Regions from separate parts of the Homo sapiens genome. Here region 1 is linked to region 2. A link means that fine-mapping ties the variant in region 2 to the expression of a gene that starts in the linked region. Tissue or cell type: Th1/17 cells. Region 2 holds a variant in brackets; the other region holds the start of a gene. All regions are shown on one strand. Distances are between the middles of the regions.

Region 1 (9,090 bases), 25 kb after region 2:
AAGGAAGGTGAGGGGAATCAGCTCCAGACGGGGCACCAGGAGCCTGGCTCCAGTCCCCCACTTGTTCACTCATGGACTGGGTAACTTCAGGCAAGTGACTTCGCCTCTTGGTGACTCCATTGCCTGAAGGGCAAAGAGAGTACATAACACCCACCCTGCCAAACAGCAGGGCTGATGAGGCTGGCATGAAATGAAGCTTCCTTTCTGCTGTCTCTCTTTCTCTGCAGAGATTCCGAGTAAGGAGACAAAACCCCCACATGGCTGTGACCTTCCAGTACTCCCCGAGCACCTGACCTAGAATTACACACGCCACCGGCCCAAAACTCACATCAGCAAGCCCAGCCTCCGCTAGATGCCGAAGTTCTCTGTCTCTCCTTCCTGCTCTCTCCATGCCACCTGCCCACCCCATACCCAATAGCCTCCCCAGGGTCCCCTCCCATGCACCTGCTCAATCAGCAGCAACCCAAGAGTGAGGGGTGTCCATTTGTGTCTTGTTCACATCCACTCACTGTCCTTGTACCTGCTCCTTTTCTGTGACCTCTCTGGGGATGCTTTTTGGGGGAACAGCTGGACTACCCTGGAACAACCTCTGGTTGGTCTTGGGGAGGGGAAGAAAGGCAGAGAAGCAGTATGTTCTGCATGCTTCCCAACGACAGCTCCGAGCCTGGCTGTCTGTCCCACATTCCTCTGCTCTAGAGCCCTCTGTCCTCCCCTGCACCCTTGTGCAACCTTCCCCAATTGCCTGAGTTGCTGGGTCCTGGAGGTTATGGGTTTCCAAGAGCTTCTGATCTTTCCTTTAGGAATTCCCAATCGCTGGGAGGACAGATTGTGCTGGGAGGCAGCGACCCCCAGCATTACGAAGGGAATTTCCACTATATCAACCTCATCAAGACTGGTGTCTGGCAGATTCAAATGAAGGGGTCAGAAATCCTCAACCCTCCCCGGGCTCCAAAAAATGCTGCCGTCACTGGGGTTGGGGAGGGTGGGGAAGGACTGCATTACCATCCTGCCCTCTTTCCAAATGCAGCCACTTCTTAAGCACAGCCACCATTTGCTCTCTGCCTGCTCTGTCCAGGCTGGGGAACAGAGAAGGGAGGGGCCTGGGGAGAAGTGGTGGAGGGTGACAGTACCTTCCCTCCTCTACTCACTGCCTCAACAGGCCACCAGCGTGGCCTCCACCCACCCACCCACACTCAGGAAGGACATGCAGCCTGGAGGTGCCCCATCAGCCTTCTGTCTGTCTGTCTGTCTGTCTGTCTGACTGTGGCCTCCCCCAGGGTGTCTGTGGGGTCATCCACCTTGCTCTGTGAAGACGGCTGCCTGGCATTGGTAGACACCGGTGCATCCTACATCTCAGGTTCTACCAGCTCCATAGAGAAGCTCATGGAGGCCTTGGGAGCCAAGAAGAGGCTGTTTGATGTAAGAAGCCAAAGAGGGAAGGTGCTGTGGGTGGGGGGAGCGCCACCTGGTATCGGCTCACAAATCCCCCAGGCAAATGAGGCCATCTCAGGCCTTCGCTTGTTCACCTCACACTCTCCACACATGTGGCTGGTCACCCATGGGGCGGGGCACTGTCCCCAGCCCTCTCCAGCAGAGAGACCAGGCCACCAGCGCAGGACTCCTTGTCTGCTGAGACGTCTTCCATACTCAAGAAGGCTCTCTTTGCCCCCCACCCCAGTATGTCGTGAAGTGTAACGAGGGCCCTACACTCCCCGACATCTCTTTCCACCTGGGAGGCAAAGAATACACGCTCACCAGCGCGGACTATGTATTTCAGGTGAGGTTCGAGTCGGCCCCCTCGGTGGCAGGGAGAAAGGCTGGACAGAGACCCTCAAAGAGTGACAGATTACAATGCACAGGTCATGTTAGAACTGTAGTTCTCAAACTTGGCTGTGCATGTCACCTGGAGAGCTTTGAAAAATCCTGGTACCTGGGCCACATCCCATACCTATTAAATCAGAACCTCTAGAAGTGGCACCTGGGGTTCAGTTTCCCCAGGTGATTCCAATGTGTGGCCATGTTTGGGCATCACTATGCCTGTTCCCTCATCTCCATTTTCTCATCAAATACTCCCAAGAATCCTATGCTCCTATATTCTTACCCTCTTTTCATAATCAATAGGCTTAGAGAAGTTGAATAACTTGTCTAGGATCAGAAGCTAAGGCAAACTGTAAGCTCCTGAAGGAAGCACGGTGCCTGATGCATTGTTTGCCTGGGATCTAGCACAGGGGCTAAACATAGGAGTGGTGCAGTCCACGATGGGGCAAAATGGCCATGATGTGAGGGAGGCCCAGTGTGGCTAGGGGAGAGATGGGGGCGAGAGGGGGAATGTTGCTGAAGACAGTTGCTGGGGGTCAGGCAAGGTGAAAGGAGAATGCTCATGTGCTGGGTATGGAGAAACTCTCCCCCTTCCTGCCAGGAATCCTACAGTAGTAAAAAGCTGTGCACACTGGCCATCCACGCCATGGATATCCCGCCACCCACTGGACCCACCTGGGCCCTGGGGGCCACCTTCATCCGAAAGTTCTACACAGAGTTTGATCGGCGTAACAACCGCATTGGCTTCGCCTTGGCCCGCTGAGGCCCTCTGCCACCCAGGCAGGCCCTGCCTTCAGCCCTGGCCCAGAGCTGGAACACTCTCTGAGATGCCCCTCTGCCTGGGCTTATGCCCTCAGATGGAGACATTGGATGTGGAGCTCCTGCTGGATGCGTGCCCTGACCCCTGCACCAGCCCTTCCCTGCTTTGAGGACAAAGAGAATAAAGACTTCATGTTCACAGCCTGTTGCATCTGGGTTCACTAGGGTTTAGAACAGAGGGAGGGGCTGCGTGATCATGTGTGGACAGGAATGTGACACAGACAAGCTACACATTCGCCTAGCGCACAGGTTCTTGCGTGCAGGGATGATGCCATCCATCTGCCATCAACGGGACTCAGGTGGAGCTGTTTACACAACCTCAGGTGGGAAGTCTGAAAAGAGCCGGAACCAAGCTCCCTCTAGTCCCTCAGGGACCAAGGCTAATGCTGTGGCAGTAGACTGTGGGTCAGAAAGTTCTCCCAGCTCACAGAAGCCAGCTCTGAGTTCAGACTCTGCTCTGCTGAGCTAGTCAGCCCTGTCTCTTGTCCCTGCAAAACTCCCCTCAGCTGTCCTTATCCACTGCAGATGCCCCCGCCCTGCCCCATGTAGCCATTTACACAGGCATTCTAAGGCACTACCACCTAAAATCATAGAACACCAGAGATCCAGGCAATACTTCCACTTTACAGGTGGGGAAACTGAGGCCCAGAGAATGGAAGGCCTTGCCCAAGATTACTCGGTCAAGAATCAAGTAGTGAAGAATACTGAAAGATAGTGAAGAATCAAGACTGGAACCCAGCCCGTCTGACTTGGGTCCTGGGGGTTTCCACCTTATCATAAGCAGTTGGTACCGTCATAAGTACAGTGCTTCACGCACGCTGGTACAGGGCCACGTGCACAAGCACACAGGTGCACACACACACTGCTATCCTCCATCCCATCCACCTGGGACTCGTCAGGCTGAAGTCTCTTCTCCCACTCTCACTCCTTGGGCTGTCTTCAGGGCACATGTAACTTGGGGAATGAGAAATTAGCATCCACCTGGAGCCACTGAAGCCATCCCTCTTCACCATAGTTGCTCACCTCTCTTTTGACAGAAAGTCGTGAGGCACTGAATGGCCCAACCAGGCCCTCAGTACCTCTGGGAGCCATCTGCAAGAGTCCCTGTGTAGCGCCAAGAGCCGGAGCCTGGGCTTCAGGACCCTGGACTCCCACTGATTCTCCATGTTCCCTTGTCCTGCATAGCTGTACTTCCTCACTGCAAAGGAAGTGTTGGTGGCCAGTGTCTTTTCCAGCTCCATCCTGGAGCTCCAGGACCTTAGGAAGGCAGGCACGACCCCCATTATCTCCTTCACTATCCAATATGGTAGGCACATGTGGCTATTTACACTAAAATTAAAATTAATTAAAATTGAATAAAATCAACCGGGCGCGGTGGCTCACGCCTGTAATCCCAGCACTTTGAGAGGCCGAGGAGGGTGGATCACCTGAGGTCAGGAGTTCAAGACCAGCCTGACCAACATGGAGGAACCCCCGTCTCTACTAAAAATACAAAATTAGCTGGGCGTGGTGGCACATGCCTGTAATCCCAGCTACTCAGGAGGCTGAAGCAGGAGAATCGCTTGAACCCAGGAGGCCGAGGTTGTGGTGAGCAGAGATCACACCATTGCACTCCAGCAGCCTGGGCAACATGAGCGAAATTCTGTCTCAAATAAAAAAATTTTTTTAATAAAATCAACGTGGCTAGTGGTCACTGCATTGGACAGTAGATATAGAACATTTCAATCACTGCAGAAGTTCTGCTAGGCAGAGCTGGATTCTGGACCGCAGTAAGCATAGGAGCCTTGCGGTTGAGAGGTTCCGGGATAGGCCAAAGGGGTAACTGGGAAAATAGGAAAGGGCCCCTTCTCTGAAGGCGCTTTTCTGGGTGGGGCAGTGAGAGATAGTGACTAGTGAGATCCCTGAGGCCTCACTACAACAAATAGGGCTGGCAGCCAACAGAGCCCTGCTCAGAAGGTGGCAGAGAATGACCAAAGGAGAATCTGGCTAGTAGAGGGACTTGCCCCCTGAGCCGGCCTGGCCTCTCTCCATGTCTCCTCCCCACAGCAACCTGCCCCGGGACACCTTGTCACCCCTTCCCCTTCCTTCCCACCCCCAGCCATCACCATGCCTTGCTTTGGCCCTTAGCTGCGCCAGGCATTTGGCTGTCCTCCCCAGGACGCGCGAGGGTCTGTCCACTTCACACCCCGAATGCCAAGCAAAGCACTGGGCTCGGGTACACCGCTGGCCTGCTACCTGGCTCCATTCACACGCTCAGGATGGGAGGGAGGCTTTAACTCAGTCTGGCCCCAAGTCCTGCCCAGGATGTGCCCAAACACTCCAACGCCCTGGCTGTTCAGTGGCCTGCCAGGGGACAGCGCAGTCTGCTGGACTGGCACACTCTCACCCCAACGCTATCACCCAATGTCCCCTCTTCATGCAGTGTGTTTCTGTCGGGGATGGGAGGTTGCCTGGGTGTGGGGGGGGGCTCTCTGCAGGGAAGGACCTTTGAGATGCAGCAGGGGCCGCCCCTGCAGAGCCATTTCCCGGGGTCCGGGGACTGGGGGCACGGAGCAGGGGCACAGAGGGGCGAGCCCAAGCTGACGTCGTGGGAGCAGCGGATCTCTCTATTCCAGGATGAGGTGGGGGCGCAGGACGAGCCCTCCCCCGCCTCCACCCCAGGCTACCGGGAGAGAGCTGGAGTCTCGCGGCCTCGGAGGCCGGGAAGCCAGCCCCGGCGGGGACCCGGGCGGGGCGGAGCCAGCGGAGGCCCCACCCCCGGCGTCACCGGCCCCCAGGGGGGCGTCGCCCCCACCCCGCGCTCCAGGTAGCGGCGGCCTCAGCTGCCGGCGGTGGCTGGCTGAGCTCCCCAGCGGCCCGCGGGCCGGGGCGGGGGCGGGCCGGGGGCGTTCCCGCGGGCCACCGCCCGTGATGTCACAATCGCGGCGGGCCGCGGCGCTCCGGGGTCGGCGGTGGGCGGCGGGCCGCGAGCCGGCGATCGAAGCGGGCAGCTCGCGCCTGAGTCATGGACTTCCCCTGGCCCCTCCTCTACCACTCCCACTCCCTCGCCGGACCCCCCCGCCGGGGCTAGCGTCTGCCGCGGCTCCGAGGGGGTGGGGCTGCTGGGAATGGCTGTGCCCCCTTCGGCCCCTCAGCCGCGCGCGTCCTTTCACCTGAGGAGGCACACGCCTTGCCCGCAGTGCTCATGGGGCATGGAGGAGAAGGCGGCGGCCAGCGCCAGCTGCCGGGAGCCGCCGGGCCCCCCGAGGGCCGCCGCCGTCGCGTACTTCGGCATTTCCGTGGACCCGGACGACATCCTTCCCGGGGCCCTGCGCCTCATCCAGGAGCTGCGGCCGCATTGGAAACCCGAGCAAGTTCGGACCAAGGTAGCGGAGTGGGCGCGGGGCCGAGGATGGGGTCCTGCCAGGGCTGCCAGGGGGATGCGGGGACCCAGTCCTCGCATCCTTCCGGGTGTCAGTCCCAGGGGTGCGCGGCTGCTGCGCAAGAAAGGTTTGGAACGTGGTTTGTGTACGGATTGATTTCGTCGCTACCAAAACTAGGCTCACACCTCCCTTGGCCCTGCACACGCCCCCCTCCTCCCGGGGCTCTTAGGCACGCCTGGTGGCCACCTGCCCACTGTCGGCATGCTGCGTGTGCGGGCCGCACCCCCTGTCGCTGCGTGCTGGTGCCCCTCGCTGACCAGAAGCGCGTACCCAGCCAGCTCTGAAACCTGAGGAGGCGGGAACTTTTAAGAGACCCCCCGCCCCCCCGACCCAGCCATACATGCATACATTGCTGCCCCTTCTCCACCCCATGGTGGGAGCAAATCCTCCAGGCTCTGAGCTGCCCCTGTGGGTCCCAGGAGCCACCCTGTGGAATTCCAGCTAGCACTCAGCTCCTCACCATCGCTGCAGGCTCGGGCTCAGCACCCCCACACAGGCCATCTTCCCCAGCCCCAGCTGGACACAGGTCCCAGGACACACCTGTGGGCAGAGCCACTCACTGAGCCTTAGGCTAACTCCCCAGCTGACTACCTCCAGCCCCGCTGTGGGCTGCCTGTGGAGGAAGGTGCCGAGTGGGGCGCTTGTAGCTTGTGCTGGAATGGTAGCGGCTCCATGCAGACAGGCATTCTGGGGTGGGGTGGGGGCAAAGTTGTGGGGAGGTTCTTAACCAAGTGTGGAGGCTGACAGAACCCGCCCTGGGGATGGAGTAGCGTTTTCAAAATAAAAGGCCCAGTTTGGTATAAGACTGTCAAGGCATCAAGCAGGCCTGAGGTTAATTCCAGCACTGATCTAACGTGCTATCTGCCAGTCCCTCCCCTCTCCTGCCTCAGTTTCCCTACGTAGAATTGGTTCAGATGACCTCTAGGGCCCTCCCAGCTCTGTCACATTGTGCCCCGTAAATTCCATGGTTCCTTTCTCCTCATCACCCTGCTGTCCAGAGAACCTTGCTCGCAGCCCAGTTGTCTCCTGTCTTTTCTGGTAAGGACCTCTGGCCACTAAAGTCCTGGGATGGGTGCCAACCTCAGTACCCTCCTTGTACCTCCACCACTGGATGGGGCAAGGGGTAGAGCAGAGCACACTGCCCGGCACAAGGTGATTGGCAGCTGGTCAGGACATAGTGTTCTGGGCAACTCCCAGCCCTCCCCTGCCACATTCTGGTCCATGATGTTTCTTTCCGTACTGGGGTGGAGGGTAAGGAGCAGCAGGAGGCGTCTACCTCCCAAGTAGTGTGGAAATTTCTCCACTGCCAAATCCCATTCACTAGAGGCACACCCAGGAGTGTGTGGGAGCTAAACCCAAGCTACCATTTTTTTCTTGAACTCTATAGAGACTGGAGACTCCCAAGGTTGGGGACAGAGAGGAGCATGAGTGACTGGGCTAAAGCACTGGGGGCTTGGGGTGGTTGTGCTCGGCATTCAAATGAGCACCTCCTGCTGGAGCTACAGAGCCCAGGAGAGAGACCAGAGAGATCCTGCCCCACCCACCCACCCACGCACTGTCCTCTCCCCATGCTAGCGCTTCACGGATGGCATCACCAACAAGCTGGTGGCCTGCTATGTGGAGGAGGACATGCAGGACTGCGTGCTGGTCCGGGTGTATGGGGAGCGGACGGAGCTGCTGGTGGACCGGGAGAATGAGGTCAGAAACTTCCAGCTGCTGCGAGCACACAGCTGTGCCCCCAAACTCTACTGCACCTTCCAGAATGGGCTGTGCTATGAGTACATGCAGGGTGTGGCCCTGGAGCCTGAGCACATCCGTGAGCCCCGGCTTTTCAGGTGAGGAGGGTGCCAGGGCCTCTGTCTCTACTATTCTTCAGGCCTTGGGCTTGGAAATCCTTGGCATGTGGGGTCCATGGTGGAGAGTTGTAAGATCTGTGAGTTCCCTGAAATTGCATGAAAAATGCATGTTTATATGCATTGCTCTGCAGAGAGGGGCTATCGCTTTCTGTAGATTTTAAGGGTGAGTTCTGGGGGAGGAAAGGAAGAATTGTGATGAACATGGGAGCAGAGGACCTGGTTCCCTAAGTGCGGCAGAGATCTGCTTCCTGGCATCATGCCTCAAACCTCTGCCCACTCCAAGTCTGACCTGGAAACATCTCAGAGCCTTAGAAATGAAATCTGAGCCAGATCCCCAGGGCACTCAGGGTTTTCTACCTCTGTCTCTGTTTGTCAAGGAAAATGGGCCCTATCCAGGGTAAGCATGGTTTTACCAGCCCAGGGAGATGCTATCTCTTCTGCCAGTCTGAACTCCTTCCTGGCTCCTTGACGAAGTGGGAACCCAGGTTTGGGGAACTGTCAAGGCCTCCTTTCAAAGGCTCACAAGAACCTGTGGCTCCTGGGGAGCCCCTCCCAGTAAATGCTTGGATGTGTAGGGCCCAGGAACTGGACTTTTCCTTCAAGCCCTGGGAATGCTGTGGAGCCTGGAAAGGGGGAGGACCAAAGAAGGACCCCTAGCATCTCCCTCTCCTCTGTGCCAGAACAAGGATGGCAAGCAGTGTCCTCCTTCCTCCCTCCAATGTCATGACCCACACGGAGGGCACTCAGACTTGAGTGAGGCCCAAGGCAGGCTGAGGTTTACTCCTGACACTGGGACAGTGGCACGGGGATCTGCCTAGGAGCCTTGGCATCTGCCCAGGCTAATCCAAGGGGAAGGAGGGCTTGCATACTGAGGGGAAACAAGCCCACCTGGGGGTAGAGCAAGAAGCTTCTTTGCTTCCTCACCTGCCACCCACTTAACCCCAAATGCACCTGGCTGTGTTTGTGCATGCCTTCTGCAGGGACTTAGAAGAAGAGGATTTGAGAGCTCTTCCACCCCCATGCTCATAAGCGGCTGGTCAGGCGGGATATTTGAGTTGTGTATTGTAGCAGTGTGTGTGTGTGTGTGTGTGTGTGTGTGTGTGTGTGTGTGTCTTGAGGGTGTGAGAGGCATACAGACCTATGCAGGGATGTTTGCAGGCTCCAGTTGAACAGTT
Region 2 (10,602 bases):
CGACTGGTTCATCTCAAACAAGACCATATCCATTTGTATAACTTTTCTAAGAGAACCATCAATATTTTCAATACTGAAACAACCAGGTGGTGAACCCGCCATTTATTTTCTTAGCTTTTCATGTGCCTGGGCCATCTGTGGGAGAAAGGTCTGTCGTTGGTCCACTAAGGGACTCCTCTGTGTCTGGACTGGTTGGAGAGTGGAGTTCTTTCTAGAATCAAGCTGGGAGTTGATGAGCAACCTGTCTGATATACCTCCTTGGCTGTTGTTCCCTACCGTCAGCCACTCCTTAGGCACCAAGGCTCCCTCTGTAGCAGTCCTGGGTGGACAACACAGAGCTTGAGCTGGCCTGGGGCTTGTGGTGACCTCTATGCCTCCTGCACACCCAGGCCCGAAGGCAGGAAAGACCTGAGTTTTGATTTTGTCAAAAACCAAGGGGTGGAATATGAGAGAAATTCTCATCTATCACAAAAGAAGAGTAATAAAAATGTGTAAAATTTTGGCCAGGCGCGATGGCTCACGCCTGTAATTCCCAGAACTTTGGGAGGCTGAGGTGGGTGTATCATCTGAGGTCAGGAGTTCAAGGCCAGCCTGGCCAACATGGTGAAACCCTGTCTCTACTAAAAATACGAAAATTAGCCAGGTGTGGTAGTGGGTGCCTGTAATCCCAGCTACTCTGGAGGCTGAGGCAGGGAGAATCTCTTGAACCCGGGAGGTGGAGGTTGCAGTGAGCCGAGATCATGCCACTGCACTCCGACAGAGCGAGACTCCATCTCAAAAAATAATAATAATAAATAAAAGTATATGCGTCACCTTTAGGAATATGAATGACCAACAATAGCAGAATAGTCTAGAGAGTTAACAGTCTTACCTTGGAGGAGCCAGGCTGAGAGCTGGGGGTGGGGGTGGAATTGGAGATTGCTGGTTTTCATTATAAGCCTTTTAGTTGTATTCATTTTTAAAGCTACAGCATATTTTTTTCTGATTAAAAAAATATTAAGTCCAGCCTGGCCAACATGGTGAAACTCTGCTTCTACTAAAAAATATAAAAATTAGGCCGGGCGCGGTGGCTCACGCCTGTAATCCCAGCACTTTGGGAGGCCGAGGCGGGCGGATCACGAGGTCAGGAGATCGAGACCATCCCGGCTAAAACGGTGAAACCCCGTCTCTACTAAAAATACAAAAAATTAGCCGGGCGTAGTGGCGGGCGCCTGTAGTCCCAGCTACTTGGGAGGCTGAGGCAGGAGAATGGCGTGAACCCGGGAGGCGGAGCTTGCAGTGAGCCGAGATCGCACCACTGCACTCCAGCCTGGGCGACAGAGCGAGACTCCGTCTCAAAAAAAAAAAATAAATAAATAAATAAATAAATAAATAAATAAATAAATAAATAAAAATTAGCTGGGCATGGTGGCTTGTGCCTGTAATTCCAGCTACTCCAGAGGCTGAGGCAGGAGAATCATTTGAACCCGGGAGGTGGAGGTTACAGCGAGCTGAAATCACACCACTGCACTTCAGCCTGGTGACAGAGCGAGACTGTCTCAAAAAAAAAAAAGAAGAAGAAGAAGAAAAAGAAGACGAAGAAGGAGAAGAGAAAAGAGGAAGGGAGGAGGAGAAAGGGGGGAAGGAAGGATGGGAGACGCGGGTGGGCAGGCAGGGAGGGAGGAAGAGAGAGGTCTGTTTTCTGGGAAATGTATTCTTGAGGTGCTGACAAAGAATTTTTGCTTGTCCAAATTTTAGTTATGCCTTTCAAATCTTCTGCTAGGTTTATCTGGGCACTTCCTTGTAAAATCCAGTTTTAGCAAAGAGCCCTGCTAAGTCAATTTAGCAAATAATCCCCACCCTCAATATCTGATCACCCTGGATATCTGACCAGGTTCCTCAGCCTGCACCATGCCACAGGTGATGTCTGATCACCATGGCCTGTCTGTGGCAGGAATCCTGTTACATGAGTTTAGCCAGAATGCCCCCATGCCCCTGATGTTTCCTCTTAGTAATTTTCATCCACTGACCCCACCATGCTCCTTGGCTTTACATTTTCACTTGCCCATGCTGTATTTGGAGTTGAGCCCAACTTCTCTCCCCAACTGCAAGAACCTGTTGCAGTGGTCCCTGTATCTATCTCAAAAGTCCTGAGTAAAGTCTGCCTTACTGTGCTTTAATAAGTGGCACTGGATAATTTTGCTTTAATAGTACAACCCCTGTCCCTAACAGCCATCCTCCATCCCAGCTATGCTTCTGCTGGTGACACTCAGCACACGAACCCCTAGCACTATACCACCCCTCTGTCACTCCCTACACACCACACACACACACACACGCACACACACACTCCACTGCTGTGCTGTCAAATCCTCCTCTAGAAAAGGAGCCTTCCAGCTTAACCTTGTTCGATAACAAAACAGACTCCTGGTGCCACTAAGGAAAAGCATTTTTCTATGTTTCTAGCTTTCATGCCTCAGGGTATTGATGTCTGGTTCCACCACATTGGGTGCATCTCATTTTAGGAACACCCTTCAATCAGGCTATCCCACCAAGCCCCCATCCCCCATGCCAATCCCCTCCTGCCCCAGGCCCCTACAGATCCCAAGACCTGTGTAACCTGCCTTCAATTTTCCTGGGTCACCAGTTAAACAGGCCTCAGGTTGGGATCACCCAACCCCATGGCTGAATACCTGTTCCTCTAAGGTTCCCAGAACAAACAACTAAGGATGCTTGGTTCTCCTCACTCCTACCCCTACCCCACCTCCATCCCAAGGTTCTTCCGTTCCTGCCCATCCCTTGCCCAGAGCTCTCTGAGTAATTATCCCTTCTGGAGAGTCTGCCCACACAAGGCAGCACTGGACGGTTACAAAACTCCATTCTGGGTCTTTCTTTCCTCTCAAGGCCACAGCTGCTCATCTCTACTAGTAGAGTTCAGCGCCCCATCTGATTGGTAAATTCCTCCAGAGCCAGCTGGAGTTCTCCAGCGATGGGGAGTGAAGCATGATGAGGGAAGGAGGACAGGTGGAAGAGAGACGTGGCCATTTGATCTCACCGCTTGCTTGCTCATTTGCTTTTGTTTGTTTTGAGACAAGGTCTTGCTGTGTCACACAGCTGGAGCGCAGAGGCCCAGCCACAGCTCACTGCAGCCTCGAACTCTTGGGCTCAAGCTATCCTTCCTCCTCAGCCTCCTAATTAGCTGGGACTACAAGTGTGTGCCCCCATGCCTGGATAATTTTTTAAAAATAGTTTTAGACACAGGGGCTCTCTATGTCACCAAAGCTGGCCTTGAATTCCTGGCTTCATGCAATTCTCCCACCTTGGCTTCCTGAGTAGCTGGGATTACAGGCATGAGCCACCATGCCCAGCCCCATTTGCTTTTTAATGAATTGAAGCAGGACTGGCCAAGAGATGATTAGCTCCCAAGCACTAAGCCTCAGTGAGTCCAAGTTCTACCTCTTTACCACCACCCCCTGGGCAGGGGCCATGATAAGAGTTTTCTACTAAACTGCTGATACCAAGAATAAATCCATGCCTGTTTCGCAGCAGCACAAACCAGACTCTTCATGCTACCCAGACTTCCCTCCCTCCACCCTCGACCTCCCCTGACCACTCCAGCCTTGGTCTCAACACCTGAATCTCCCTGGGCTCATTATCATGGAGGAGAGTGGGATTTGGGGTTTTTAAGAAAAAACCCTGAGCACCACTTATGTCCTGAGAGATTTCCAGAGGTTGTGGGATCTGAAGTAAGATGAGAGGGCTGGGATCTGACTGGATTTATGCTTCCCCTGCCTGGTTCTCACGTCCCAGCCCTGCCCCGCTGGGAAAGGGCTGGGGCAATATGACCCTTCCCTCTGCCCCCACCCACTCCACTTCCCTGAGCGAGAGGTGACGCAGCCCAGGGCTTTTGCGTAGCATCCTGGCGAGCCTTTGTGAGAAGAACTGGACCCCGGGCAGAAGGGGGTCAAAAGATGACCTGATAAGGGTCCTCATACTCTCTCTTTTCCATCCCCAGCCTGGGACTCGGGAAGGCCCAAGTTCAGAGGGGAGGAGAGGCTCTCCTGGCAGCTTCACCTCCCCTTCTGTATTTTCCCCCACCTGTGCAGCAGAAATGGGAGAGTTACAGGTCAGGCCACCTGGCAGTCAGGACACACCAGAGCTGGACAGGCACAGAGTCAGCCTGGCCCTGTCCATGGCAGGGAGCTCCCTGACAGTTGAGCACCTGGGCAGGACTATCCCCAGGTAGGGGAGTTCACCGCCTCAGAGGGCACTTGCCCTGCTGGGCAGTGTGAACCGCTGGACAGTTCCTCCTTAGAATGGAACTCAAACAGATTCTCCCCATCCCGCCACTTCTCATGAGCCTCAGATCTGCATTGTGGGCACAGAAAATAGGGCTGGTTCTGATTCCTTCCAGGGCCGCATGTGTGGCTTCTCTCTTCCAGCTAAGCTTCTCCAGGGCCTTTGGCCAACCTTCAGGACATGGTTTCAGGCCCCTTGCCTGTCCCAGCTCCAGACCATGCATGGTCGTGCTTAGCTGTGTTGCCCATTTTCTGATCTCGGGATCTCTCCTCCAACTGTTCCCCTCCCAGGCTGTGCGCTGGGGTGGAAACCAGGAGAAATAAGACAGAGGCTGTCATTTTGGACTCTGTTACCCTCTTAGAAGTTGATTTCCTTGCCTGCCCTGTGGTCTCTGCAGATCTTGTCTGCAACTTGCTTGCAGCCTCAGAGTGAGTTAGCAGAGTCATTGTTCCACTTCTCTCTCCTGGTGAGGTTATTCATGCTTCATAGTCTCACTTGTATGCACTGCTGGGCTCAGGACCACATGGGGGTCATGGTGCTGCATACATGGTGGGAGGCAGGGGATAGATGTGGGAGTGAGGACATGTTTGGTTGGAGAGTGCTGGGTCCCCAGGGGACCTAGATCTACTGGTAGCTCAGGGCTTCACATTGCCTGCTCTGGACCTCCTGGCTCTGCCTTTGCTGTTGAAGAGTCCGGAAACTTAATCAAAAATAGATGTGAGGGTTCTGCTGCACTGTACTGGGTGTCTAAACTATACTAGACGTGGGGCTTAGAAGAGCTCCCCTTTCCACATAGAAAAGCTCTATGGGGTTGGATCACTCTCTACAGATTCTTCTTTTGAATCCCATTGGCTCTCCCAGTTGTTCCTGACACCCATAGCCACAGAGAAGGAGTCACAAAGTGAAGCCCTCAGCTTGTCCTTCTCTAAGCTCTCTGCAGCCTCAGTGGCCTCATCTGAACAGTGCAGATGATAGTTACCACTTCATAGGGCTGCCTAGAAAACAAAATCCAGTAGTGTTCAAATCACCTCATAGCACATC[A/G]TAGATGCTCAAGAAAGTTGGCTGGTGTTACTCACATTCTGCTGCAGCCCCTAGGCTGACCCCATCTCTGACAGTCCTCCAACTTGTTCTCTCCCTGCTCCTTGCTCCCTTTCCTCTAGGGTTTGCTGAGAGCAGAGGGAGAGAAAGGGTGGGTGGTCAGTCACCCTTGCTGGCTATGACAGGTTGCAGTCATGGTGGGAAAGGAGACAGCATCACTCTTAAGCACTCTCCTGAGATTCATGATGGACACTCCTCCAGCAACGCAGGGGCCCTCGAGCTCGAGGTGGAGAGAAGTGAGATTCTGGGGCAGGGCACCCACCCAGGTTCAAGCCCAGCAACTGTACCCATGAGCAACACAGGATATGGTGCAGGAGAGATGCAAGTCCCCACTCTGCCACTTACCATCTGCAAATCATGACACACTGCTTAACCTCCTAGGTCTTGGCTTCCTCCTGTTGGGGAAACTGATCCACTCACCTCCCAGGCTGATGTGGACACTGGGAGAAGACCCTCTTCCCTTCAGGCCCTGCTTTTTTGCCTTGGACCCTCCACACACTCCCTGCTGTCATTACTGGACTAGCAGTTCCCGCCCTGTCATTTATCAAAGACTTTGGCTCCTGATTTACAGACTTCCTCCACCCCTTGCCCTCTGCAACCTCCTGATGACATCACCAACCACGCAGATGGTGACCTGGCCATACTGGCCTCTCAGATCCTTGGGGCCCCATTTCCAACAACCTCACCCCTCCTCTACTTCAGCTATCCACAGCCACGTCCTACTTGGGACTTATCACTTATAACCACTTCCCCTCCAGACTATCTCAAGCATCCCATGCTCAGCCAGCTCGTCCTCCAGCTTTGTGGTTCAACTGTTCCCACCAGCCCTGCTCACTCTTCTCAATTGCCATGGTCCTTTGCTTCCTTCCAGATCATCCATTCTGTCCTGTCTTGACTTCTCTAGCCACCTTACATTCCACAGTTTTTCATTCAATAACAGTTTTTGTCGTTGTTGTTGTTGTTGTTGTTGTTTTGAGACAAGGTCTCACTCCATCACCCAGGCTGCAGCACAGTGGCAACAATCACAGCTCACTGCAGCTTCAACCTCTTGGGCTCAAGCAATCCTCCACCTCAGCCTCCCAAGTAGCTGGGACTACAGGTGGGCACCACCATACCCCAGTTGATTTTTGTACTTTTTTGTAGAGACGAGGTCTCACTATGTTGCCCAGGCTGGTCTCAACCTCCCAGGCTCAAGCAATCCTCCTGTCTCGGCCTTCCAAAGTGCTGGGATTGTAGGCATGAGCCACTGCTCCCGGTCCAATAACATTTTTGCTAAAACCTTAAATTCCTTTGTCCCTCATCTTTGATCACCCTAGCCCTGGATGAAGCCAGCTATATACTTTCTCTCCATCTGTATCCAAGGAGCTGACACTGTGGTATTGGTAGGGGGAGACAGAGAACCAGGCCAACTGGCTTCCTTTAAAGTCATGATCTCCAGCCATTAAATGTCTTCATTCCTCACAGAAATCCTCTTGGTTTCCCTGGCCACCTTCTTCCCACTTTCCATAATGATTCCAGAGCTTCTCCATTTTTCTCATGCCTCCAAACCCCCTCCCATCCCCAACTCTCAGCAGAGGTCCTTGCTTCCTACTTGTCAGAGAAGATAACAGCCACCAGACAGGCAGTCCCTCAGCTTCCAATGCCAAGCAAATCAACCACTAACACCTGCACATGCCTTGCCTTCTTTCCTCCTGCTGCAGTGGAGGGTCTGCTCCATCCTGCTGTTTCCCACCCTGTATACTCCTTCCCTCCCAGGAATCCTACTGCGTTAATTAACTCTTCCTCTCAACTGAGTGCTTTCTATGCATTAAATATACTCAACTCCCTCCCATCATTAGAAAAGATTGGCAGTGCAGCGGGATAATTAAGGAATCAGAGAGACCGAGGGGTTGAGGAGGAATTATTTAATTATTTAGGTGCACCGACCCAGTCGGATTAACATCTAAAGGACTGAGCCCCGAACAAAGAGTCAAGCTACCTTTTAAGCATTTCGTCAGGGAGAGGAGGAGGAGAAGGAAGGAGGGAAGGAGGAGGAAGAAAGAGAAAAACCTCTCACCTGGTCCTCGTTCTCCTCCAGTTATCGTCACCCTCTTTCCCCTTTTTTACTCCTCCACTTTTCAAAATAGCTGCCTACACTATGTTGTCTTCATCTTCTTACTTTCTATCCTAGTCTGTTCAGGCTGCTATTAAAAAATACCATAAACTGGGTAGCTTATAAACCACAGAAACTTATCTCTCACAGTTCTGAAGTCTGAGAAGTTCAAGATCAATGCATTGGCAGATTTGGTGTCTGGCGAGGGCCTTTGTCCTGGTTCATGAGTGGCATCTTCTTGCTGTGGCTCACATGGTGGAAGGGGAAAAAAGAGCTCCCTTGGGCCCCCTTTATAAGGGCATTAATCCCATCAGGACTTAATCACCTCTCCAAAGGTTCATCCTCCTAATACTATTATATTGAGGGTTAGAATTTCAACCTATGAATTTTGGGGGACACAAACATTCACATCGTAGCACTTCCCATCATTCATCAACCCATCCCTGTGTGGACTCCCACCCCTCTGAATCACCAAAACAGCTCCCACTGACAGCACCAGTGGCCCGCATGTCTCCATTTTAACCCAAGTCTCACCTCACCCTGCAGCAGCACCTACTGTCCCTCACCATCTCTCCTTAAACAGTCTCTCCCTGCAACTTCAGAGACACCTGCTGCTCTCCTCCTTCCTCTGTGGCCACTCCTTTGGGGTCTCCTCTGCAGATTCCTCCTCTGCTGCTTGTCCTTAAAGCTTAGAGTCCAGGGCTTTCTTGCTGCTCACCTTCTCCCTGGCTAATTTCATTCATACCTGTCGCATTAATCACCAATTGCAAATAACACATAAATCTTTCACCCGGGTTTATTTATGCACCTGCCATTTGATATCACCCCTGGGATGTCTCAAAGGAGATCCATACTCAACAGTTCCTCAAACTTATGGTCTCTCCAACCCTCTTCCCCTTCTGAAATCCTCGTTCTCTTCCATCACTCTATGTACCCAGAGTGCCTCCAAAAACCAATCTCTTCCTCACTCTCTATATCCGATCTGTCACCAAGTCCTGCAGATTCTATTTCCTAAATTTCTCTCAAATCCATCCAATCTTTTTCATCTTCACCATGCCCAAGTACCCTAGACCAAGCTAGTTCTAGCACCATGACCTCCTAACTGGTATATGCCATGCTATTCTGGACCCATCCCCACTCCTTGCTAGTCCACACTGCAGCCGAAACACATGCAAAACACATCTAATTACAACATTCCCTTCTGTTTTTTTTTCTTTTTTGAGACAAAGTCTCGCTCTTGTTCCCCAGGCTGGAGTGCAATGGCGCAGTCTTGGCTCACTGCAACCTCCACCTCCCGGGTTCAAGGGATTCTCCTGCCTCAGCCTTCAGAGTAGCTGGGATTACAGGTGCCTGCCACCACGCCCAGCTAATTTTTGTATTTTTAGTAGAGACGGGGTTTCCCCATGTTGGCCAGGCTGGTCTTGAACTCCAGACGTCAGGTGATTCGCCCCCCTCGGCCTCCCAAAGTGCTGGGATTACAGGCGTGAGCCACTGCACCTGGCCCATCAGTCCCTTCTTCACCTGTCTGCAAAAACATCTAATTACATTCATTCACTTCTTAATGGGTCAACAGCTTCCCATGGCTCTTAGGGTAAACACAGAACTTCCTAACATGGGATGCAAGAACCTTTATGGTTTGACACTCAGCGCATCTATGTACTGGGTTCTGGGCCACACAGCCTAAACTTACTGTCTGACTCTGGCCCTTATTGCCAGTGGGACCTTGGGCAAGTTACCTTTTGAATCCTCTTGGGCCTCAATGTCCTCATCTGTAAAATAGTGATATAATGCTACAACCTCATATGGTTATTGTGAGAATTAAGTGCATTAAACACCTAGAGTGGTATCTTGCACATAGTAAGTATTCAGTAAGTGTTAGCTCTTTCAGCTCCTGCCTCTGGCCACATGTCTCACCCCGCTCTCTCTCATCTCTCTGTTCTTGATATGTTGGCTTTTTTTGTTTTTATTGACATCATCCTCTCTCCACAGGGCCTTCGCACGTTCTGTTCCTGCTGGGACTCTATTTCTTTGTCTTCAGCTATTCATTGCCAATGCAGCCTTCAGATCACAATGCGAGTATAATTTTGGGTGGGAGGGAAGCTTCCTGGAGTTCCCTGACTGGCACTAGTCATCAGCGCTATTTTATATTTATGCATGATGATAATAATCTATCTCTTCCACAAGACGGTGGGATCCATAAACAAGAGCAGAAACTGTGTTTATTTTTGTGAACTTTGTAACTCCAGCATCTAGCAGAGTGCCTCACATTATAATAAAGGCTCCATGAATATTTGCTAGTAAATGAAAGAGGACTGAAAGAGCAATTTAGGGGTGCTTCATAAATGTTCATTTATTCTGACAAGATACCCCTACCATGAAGGATCTAAAAGTATTCCCCTGTCCCCAAATAATTCCCCCACTCCCAACCACAGTTCCTGAAAAATCACCACTAGGGTCCATCGTTTGGAAAGGGCCTTATCATCTCTGAGGTCAAAACACATTAATTAGCCAAAACATTAGCCACAGAGATGAGCTCCTCTCATTGTCTGTACTGCCCACAGCTGGTGTGGAGCTGGTGTAGAGGGCAGTACCCTGGAGGCACAGAATATTAGAATATTAGGGTATCAGAGCATGAAGACACCCTTGGTGCCATCCAGCCATCTGCTTCACTGTACAGATTTGGAAACTGAGGTCCAAAGAGGAGAAAGGAGGGATCCAACATCACATAGCAAATTTATGGTAGAATGAAGACTAGGATCCAAGTCCCTGACCACCAACCCAGGGCTCTTTGCACTGCCCATTGCAGTTCACTAGTTCATCCACTTAATAAATATTAAGCACCACTGTGGGCAAAAATCATATTCATACATACATAAAGAACTCTGCTGCAAAAGCAGCTAAGTTGGTGCTGTCATAGAAGGGCTTGTAGCCATGCTGTGGAAGCCTACAGCAGAAAGCAGTCAATTCCAGGCTGAGTCAGGGCCTGCTTCATGGAGGAGGGGGTAATATTTGAAGTGGGCCCTAAAAAATAATCAGGGAAAAGCCAAGATAGGCATCTTAGCCTGAATAAATAGCACTCATCCTGGGATTTAGGGACCAGATGTCTGTCTGGGGAGCTGTACTTGACTGCTTGT

Which allele goes with the higher level. Alleles are on the strand shown, and positions count from the first base shown. SD is a standard deviation of normalised expression in the study named.
In carriers of allele G in region 2, the expression in Th1/17 cells of the gene that starts at base 5,553 in region 1 tends to be lower than with A alone (moderate effect, 0.63 SD a copy in Schmiedel 2018).

The links. PIP is the estimated chance that this variant, and not a neighbour inherited with it, causes the effect.
Region 1: it holds the start of ETNK2, and the variant in region 2 is the best candidate, but not a certain one, in a credible set for the expression of ETNK2 in Th1/17 cells (Schmiedel 2018, PIP 0.69).

What each region holds. Positions count from the first base shown.
Region 1 is chr1:204,148,507-204,157,596 of GRCh38, reverse strand. It overlaps ETNK2 (ethanolamine kinase 2), which reads left to right and starts at 5,553. Exons shown (of 8, transcript NM_018208.4): 1 at 5,553-6,002; 2 at 7,635-7,894. The coding sequence starts at 5,745. REN (renin) reads left to right here. Exons shown (of 10, transcript NM_000537.4): 6 at 228-236; 7 at 801-920; 8 at 1,278-1,419; 9 at 1,679-1,777; 10 at 2,420-2,778. The coding sequence ends at 2,581. RefSeq lists an enhancer at 5,775-6,474.
Region 2 is chr1:204,172,776-204,183,377 of GRCh38, reverse strand. No RefSeq gene overlaps it. Among named protein-coding and RNA genes, the nearest start is that of REN, 12 kb to the right of the region's middle. RefSeq lists enhancers at 4,062-4,562, 5,813-6,024 and a promoter at 4,899-10,602. The variant A/G (reference allele first, on the strand shown) is at 5,320.